2 linked regions of the Homo sapiens genome follow. The protein of the gene in region 2 interacts with the protein of the main gene of each other region in a pairwise test. Each region holds a gene or a part of one and is shown on either strand. Other genes may lie near its edges.

What was found. The genes of interacting proteins can lie anywhere in the genome.
Region 1: the proteins of TCP11X2 (region 2) and SFT2D2 interact in a two-hybrid assay, tested with the Homo sapiens proteins (one large-scale study listed by BioGRID).

What each region holds. Positions count from the first base shown.
Region 1 is NC_000001.11:168,250,004-168,253,722, forward strand, and holds the end of SFT2D2 (vesicle transport protein SFT2B), read left to right. Parts: 3' UTR 1-3,018; downstream 3,019-3,719. UniProt on the Homo sapiens protein: May be involved in fusion of retrograde transport vesicles derived from an endocytic compartment with the Golgi complex.
Region 2 is NC_000023.11:102,465,243-102,468,977, reverse strand, and holds part of TCP11X2 (T-complex protein 11-like X-linked protein 2), read left to right. Parts: intron 1-3,408; coding exon 3,409-3,529; intron 3,530-3,735.

The sequences.
Region 1 (3,719 bases), on a different chromosome or scaffold from region 2:
TGAATGGTATTGCCTCCATCCTCTGAGAAGGTAAAGAGCCTATCCCAGACCCCACGAGTGGAGGCGTCAGGGAGGGGTTCTTGGCAGGAGATGGGTCTTGTAGAAAGGCTTCTGCTTTGCTTTCACTCACGGCCTGTGGCCAGTTTGCTCAGACAGCTCCCATCAGGACACCATTGGCAGCTTTTGCATGACCCTGCCTCCCAGGGTCTTCCTGCGTTTTTCCTTAAGTTGCCTTATTCTTTGGTTGTTTCCCTACTTGTTTTTGTTAGACTGTGGGAGGAAGAAATCCATTTCAAATCTGCTGAAACCTGTTACCAAGCAACAGCAGTGATTAAAAGCAACCTGATGAGTGAGTAAAGAATTAGGGTTTCAGACCTGTAGTTAATGATGGTCTCTGTCTCCCTGCTGCCCTGCATTCCCTTCCCTTCCGTTCACTGCTGGGTGAAGGAGGGCTTGCTGCATTTTGGAAGTTAAGGGAACCAATAAGGTGACTCTTTTGCAGATTGGAATATGGTGCTCAGCCAGCCATATGGAAGCACTGTCCTGGCGTGATCTGCCCTGGGCTGTTGGCTCTCTGAGTGCTGTCTTGGGAGGAGCACTGCCCTTCAGAACAGAAGAGATGGCTTCCAGTCCCCTCTCCCCCTTCTCCCAGTCTCTCTGAGGCTGCTTGTTGGGTATTGGGCGTGCTGTGTACTAACTCACTCCCGTCTCTTGTCTCATTATCTGAAATGCATCCCCTTTTGCAGAAAGGGCTCAAACGGAGCCTTCAGTTCTGCTCCTCTGCATAGCCGTAGCTCAGATCCTAGCTCAAGATGTCTTGTCTGGGAAGGGCAAAACATGGTCCCCAGTGTAGCATTTTCACTGGGTTGATTATCTCAGTGGTGGATCATCTATCACCCTTGTGTGGTGACTTTGTGAATTATCTGCCTGAGTGCCACTTCCCTTCCACCCTAATCACTGCAGGCTCAGGGAGCAAGAAATAAAATCATGAAATGCATTCCAAATAAAATTACCTTTTGGCTGGGTGCAGTGGCTCACACCTGTAATCTGAGCACTTTGGGAGGCTGAGGTGGGTGGATCGCTTGAGGTCAGGAGTTCAAGACCAGCCTGGCCAACATGGCAAAACCCCATCTCTACAAAAAATACAACAGCAAAAAAATCAGCCAGGCTAGCTGGTGTGCGCCTATAATCCCAGCTACTTGGGAGGGAGGCTGAGGCACAAGAATTGCTTGAACCCAGGAGGTGGAAGTTCAGTGAGCCGAGATCGCACCCCTGCACTCCAGCCTGAGCAACAGAGTGAGACTCTGTCTCAAAAATAAATAAAAAAAAAAATCACTTTTTGATACTTCTGTTAAAATAGATAATAAGGAACCATATCTTAAAGTGTGGAGGATCTGGCTTGGCTTCTGTTTTTGATAGCTCTATGAAAGTGACAGATTTGCATCATGAGACTTAGTGGAATGAATTGGGAAATTGAAGGGCAGCCCAGTGGCTATGGATTCTATTTTCTATGGGACTGTCTACGCCAGGCTTTATTTTCTCTTTGCTCAGATAACTTCTGACTAGAGTCGACGGTAGGATTATAAATGGTTTAAAATACGTATTCTCAAACCTCATTTTCAGCATATAAATTTTTAAGAATCAGTGTTTAAAGGTACGTGAAACCATTTGCTAGATTTTTGTCCTAGTTTTTTTTTTTTAATTTAAAAATCTTAAGTTTTTTTTAGTAAGCTTAAGATGTCCAGTAGTTTATTTGCAGACAGCATTTTTAAAAAGTGAATAGATGTTTAACTGAAGTTAAATACAAATTTATGTCTGTGTAACTCTTGGTAAGATATAACAAAACCTAGACATCTAAATTTTTTGGAAATTTTTATTTTAAAAGTTTGTTGGGAGGTAAAATTGTGTGACTTTACCTTCTGGTTAATAGTTTTATAGTTAAGAAGAAAGTCCAGCGAAGTTTACTTGATCTCAGTTGCACTCAAGAATAGGGGATTTAGTTCCACTTTGGTTATTTTCACTTCTACCCTAAATTCATAGTCCCTGATACTTAAGCTTTACCCTTGGCTTACCAGTTTTCATTGCAGCGAGTAAATGGGGAGTAGCAGAGCCTTTGTTAATGTAAATTGACAAAAAGTATGTCCTTTTCTAGCAGGAGCAGATAAACTGATAATGGTCTTAGAAATGTAGAAAATGATTTTTTGTAGACAGGATGATCTGTCTAGATTGTAGCAAATGATGGTACATATTCACAACAAAGTTGTGCCACTACATTTAATAAACAGCCACAAACAACAAAAGGACAACTGGTCCCCGATATAAATGGACTAGCTACCTGGACATAATATCCTTGTGAGGCATCCTTAAAGGACAAATTGCAGCTGGTATTTGGGTGAATGTTGTTGCTCTGTGCCTGTTGAATGTCCATGCTACAAGAAGTTATGAGCCTTGTTCTAAGTACAGATGAACCTTGTATTTGTGTAATCTCCCAAGGGAGAGCTATGGTTTACATTCAATTTTTTGGTCTTTCTGCTATGAAACGTGTTTATTTTGCCTCTGTCAATGTGTTTGCAACCTTAAGTAAGGAAAGGGAAAAAAAAAATAGCCCTCTGAACTCTGATCTTTTGCCGCTTCTGTAGATTTTGATTGTGAAGTTGGGAGTGAGGACATTCAAAAGCCCATGGTGAATGCATATGCCTTTAGAATATTGTGCCTGTTTTAAAATGTTTGAGCTTTTAAAATACGTTGTTAAAACATGAATCCATTTTTGTAATTGTATAAATACTCATAACTAATTTTGAATGCTACTGATTGTGTAACTGAATTTTTGTATCCAAAAATACATTCTTGAGTACTACTTTTCCTACCTTGAAAATCTATTTCATTTACTAAATATTGTTTTCTTTATGCTAACTTAACTTTAAAAGGAATGTTGCCAAGCTGTCTCTCCTCCCCCATCACAATTGTTAGTTTTTTTTGCTTTCTTTCTTCAATAAATGATAGCATTATGATCTTTAATAAATCTAGTGTTGTCTCTTACTCATGTCTGTATTTCCAGGAGTCTTTAAGCCAAAGGAAGACTGTAGAACTGTAAGAAAAAACCGTATCTTTAATTTGAATTCTCAGTGTGTAGCACACATTATAGGCACTTAAAGATGTTTTGGGGGACCTAACCTGACATGTAGTCCTCTCTTTTAAATGACTTAGGGTTTCACATGGGTCTAGGGACAGTTTGGAAGGTTTTTAAAAAGTAAGACATTTCCTTAAGTGTTTATTTTGGAAAAAAAATACACACACACATACATACATACATACATACATACAAACAAATAAATATATATATTTTTGAGATGGAGTCTCACTCTGCTGCCCAGGCTGGAATGCAGTGGTGTGTTCTTGGCTCACTGCAACCTCGGCCTCCCAGGTTCAAGTGATTCTTGTGCCTCAGCCTCCGAAGTAGCTGGGATTACAGTAGCGCACCACACCCAGCTAATTTTTGTATTTTTAGTAGAGACGAGGTTTCACCATGTTGGCCAGGCTGGTCCTGAACTCCTGACCTCAGGTGATCCACCTGCCTCAGCTTCCCAAAGTGCTGGGATTATAGACCTGAGCCACTGTGCCTGGCCTATTTTGGTATATTCCTACACACCTAGCTGGTTTAGTTATTTTGTGTAAAGTAGGTTGTCTAATTGGTGTAAAGTTGTTCATGATGTTTCCCT
Region 2 (3,735 bases):
CAAATGACTTTTGGTCAGACTTGAAGCATCTTATTAATAAATTTAATGGTTGAGTGTGTCTTATATAGTACCGACAAATTAGTGTAAGTATTACTTTAAAAGTGTCAAAGCAGCAAATTATATTTAAACAGGTAATAAACCAATGCAGTTACAGGTTGAACATCCCAAATCGGAAATCCACGATGCTCCAAAATCCAAAACATTTTGAGCGCCAACATGATGCTCAAAGGAAATGCTCATTGCGGTATACAAGTATGCTGCAAATATTCCAAAATCCAAGAAATCCGTAATCTGGCTAGGCGCAGTGTCTCACGACTGTTAAGTTCCAACACTTTGGGAGGCCGAGGCAGGTGGATTGCTTGAGTCCAGGAAGTCAAGGCCAGCCTGGGCAACATGGCGAAACCTTGTCTATGCAAAAAATACAAAAATTAGCCGGGCATGGTGGTGCATGCCTGTAGTCCCAGCTACTCAGGAGGCTGAGGTGGGAGGATCCCTTGAGCCTGGGAAGCAGAGGTTGCAGTGAACTGAGATCGCGAACACGCCACTGCACTCCAGTCTGGGCGACAGAGTGAGACCCTGTCTCAAATAATAATAATAACAATAATAATCCGTAATCCAAAATACTCCCGTCCCAAACATCTTGGAAAAGGGGTATTCATTCTGTATTGTCAAAATGTTCATTTCAGGATCTTAGTTAATAATGAAACGTAGAGTGATTTTCAGATCTTTTCAGACAGACTTGGAAGAGGTAACTCCTAGCCGTTCAACTTTTAATTATCTGCAGATTAAACAGGCAGAGATGAGCAGATTTTCTAATAGTGGTTTTGTTCACTCTTCAGGAGTAGGAAATTTCAGGGGACACTTCTGCTTCATAATCAGTGTAATAAAGATTCTGTGAATCAAGATTAGAACCCCATCGATAAATAGTGTGCTTCTACAATTAGGCTTTATATTGGTTTCTCTTAATTATATTGATATAACAATATATGATTAAGAATCATCCAGCATTTATGGATTGAATGCTTCTAGTGTTTATTAAGAGTTAAATGGGTTGATTTCTTTGTCAGAATCTATATTTTACGGTATTTCTAATTTCCCACCTTAAATGCTTCTGTTATTTTGCCACTTTTGGGATTCTGTTACGTAAAGCCCCTTGCTTTGTCAGTGGTTCTCTTGATCTTCATACTTCTTAGATTTTCCTTTGTCTGTTGCCAAGGATGGGTTACCTGAAGGAAGTTTTTACCAAAACACAGGTCTCGTAGCATCTCCCTCATTGCCTTTATAGTCCCTGCGGCCCGAGTTAGATTTGTTTTTCTCCTGGTAGGGGTGCAGAAAAAAGTGAAGCTAAGAGAATGAAGGTCTGTTAAAGTGGCTAGGGATCTCAGGGGGTGGATAGATGAAGCAGGAGGAATAATATTATTTAGGGCTTGGATTTCACTGTGTTTTTTAAATTAACAGGCTTTTTCAAATGTAGTAATACAAAATGTATACTGGATAAGAGGTTGAAATAGAGTTTGGGGTTATCCATTATCTACAGATAATTGACAGTTTTCCCTTTGGACTTATAAAATTATACTAAGCACAGTTATCGGTTTTTAGGGGAAATCTCATAATAAGACATTTATTCAACAAACATTTATTGAGTACTTATTAGGTGGAAGGCAGAATGTTGAAAGCTGAAGACATATAGTTGAGTGAGTCACTGTCTTTGCCATCAAAAAGCTTCTGTAGGGAAGATAGTCAAATAGCTACTGTGCAGAGTGATAAGTTATCTCATATCTAGTGTGTGGAGTTCTATGCAGTGCTCAGCTACCTGGGGAAGGTCAGCGAAGACTTTCCTAATAAGGTAACACTTGAATTGAGTCTTTTCAGGTGGTTTAGGGGAGAAGGGACTCTCCTGGAAGAGGAAATGTCATTTCAGAGCCATAGAGGGATGGAAGACAATTATATATTAATTATAAGTGGACTGTGATTGTTAGAGCACAGGATGTAGGAGGAGAAAGAAGGTTAAGGTAGGAGAAGTGGCAGAATAGGATCGTGAAGGGACTTAAAGGCCACGTACACTGCTAGAGATAGGTAGCGTCTGAAGAACTTTAAATGAGTATACTATTATGATCAGATTTGTATCTTAGAAAACTCATTGATTTTTATCAAAAATATGTACCATTGTTGGGGTAAGGTTTTGTGGGTGTAAGGTGGCCATTTAATAGACTATAGCAATAGTTCAGGAAAGAGATGACAGTGGGTGGGGGCCGATTCCAGAGATATTTAGGAAGCAAAATCTCTGGAATTGGGTGACTGAGTGGATAAAGGACATGAGGGGAAAGGAATTAAGAAGGACTACAGTACACACCAGATAGATAATAGTTGAACTTTCACAGGTTAGATTGTTGTGTTGGAGGAGAAACTTTGAATTTTTGTTTCATATATTTTTTAATCACTTGTATTTTTGTAAACAGAAAACATACATTACTATTATATACATACACGTATATATACACACGTGTGTGTATATATGTGTGTGTGTGTATATACATATATATATATATATATATTTTTTTTTTTTTTTTTTTTTTTTTTTTTGAGACCGAGTCTCGCTCTGTCACCAGGCTGGAGTGCAGTGGCACTATTTCGGCTCACTGCAAACTCTGCTTCCCGGGTTTAAGCAATTCTCCTGCCTCAACCTCCGGAGTAGCTGGGACTATAGGCACCCGCCACCACGCCCAGCTAATTGTTGTGTTTTTAGTAGAGACGGGGTTTCACCATGTTGGCCAGGATGGTCTCAAACTCCTGACCTCGTGATCCGCCCGCATCGACCTCCCAAAATGCTGGGATTACAGGCGTGAGCCACCGCGCCCGGCCTACTATTATATTTTTTTAAAGAGAAAAAGTCTCAGATTTCTGGTTACAGAACTAAGTATACATGAGGAACAAATTTAAAGAAGGAAGATAAGGAGTTCAGTTTTGGGCTTGCTGAATTTAAAGTGTCTCAGAAGACCTTCAGGTATTATCAAGAGGTAAAATCCTTTCCTAGATTTCAGGCCTGAAGGAAAAATAGCATCTGGTTCAAAGTTTTAAGTCTATGGCAGTGGAAACTAAGTCACACATCCAGGCTAGGTGCAGAACTAGGGTTAGAAGTCAGAGTCTCAACTCCTAGTTTATGGTTCTTCCTGCTGCAGGAAGAGAGTGTCTCTGGAACCTTGAGGTACCCTTCTGAGAGAATTTAGCCAATGCTTTTCCATCTGAGACTACCTTCAGTTTATTCAGCCCTTCTCAAGTCTAAACATAGGTCCTCCTAGCCTGTCAAGTTAATGGTCTTTCATAATTTTAAATGCTGTTTGGGAAATTATGATCCTGTATCAATTTTCTAGGTAAAAGAGCAATCTGCTCATTTAACCCTTCTTATAGTGTAGAAGGCAGGTTTGCGGAGGCAATGTACAATGCTTTTTGGAACCATCTGAAAGAACAGCTATTGAGTACTCCTCCTGACTTCACTTGTGCCCTTGAACTTCTAAAAGATGTTAAGGAGGTGAGTAACCAACTCCCATTCGTGGATGGGAAGTTCCTGGGCATCTCAGAACCTTGGATCGTCAATGGCTGTTAATATATCAAGTAGCATACTTTTTTTAACGTGACCTACTACTTAAATAGATAGGATGGGGCAGCTTCCATTTTATTTGTATAAGATGAAACTTGACCATTGGGCGATGACTATAACAATATATAACTCAATTA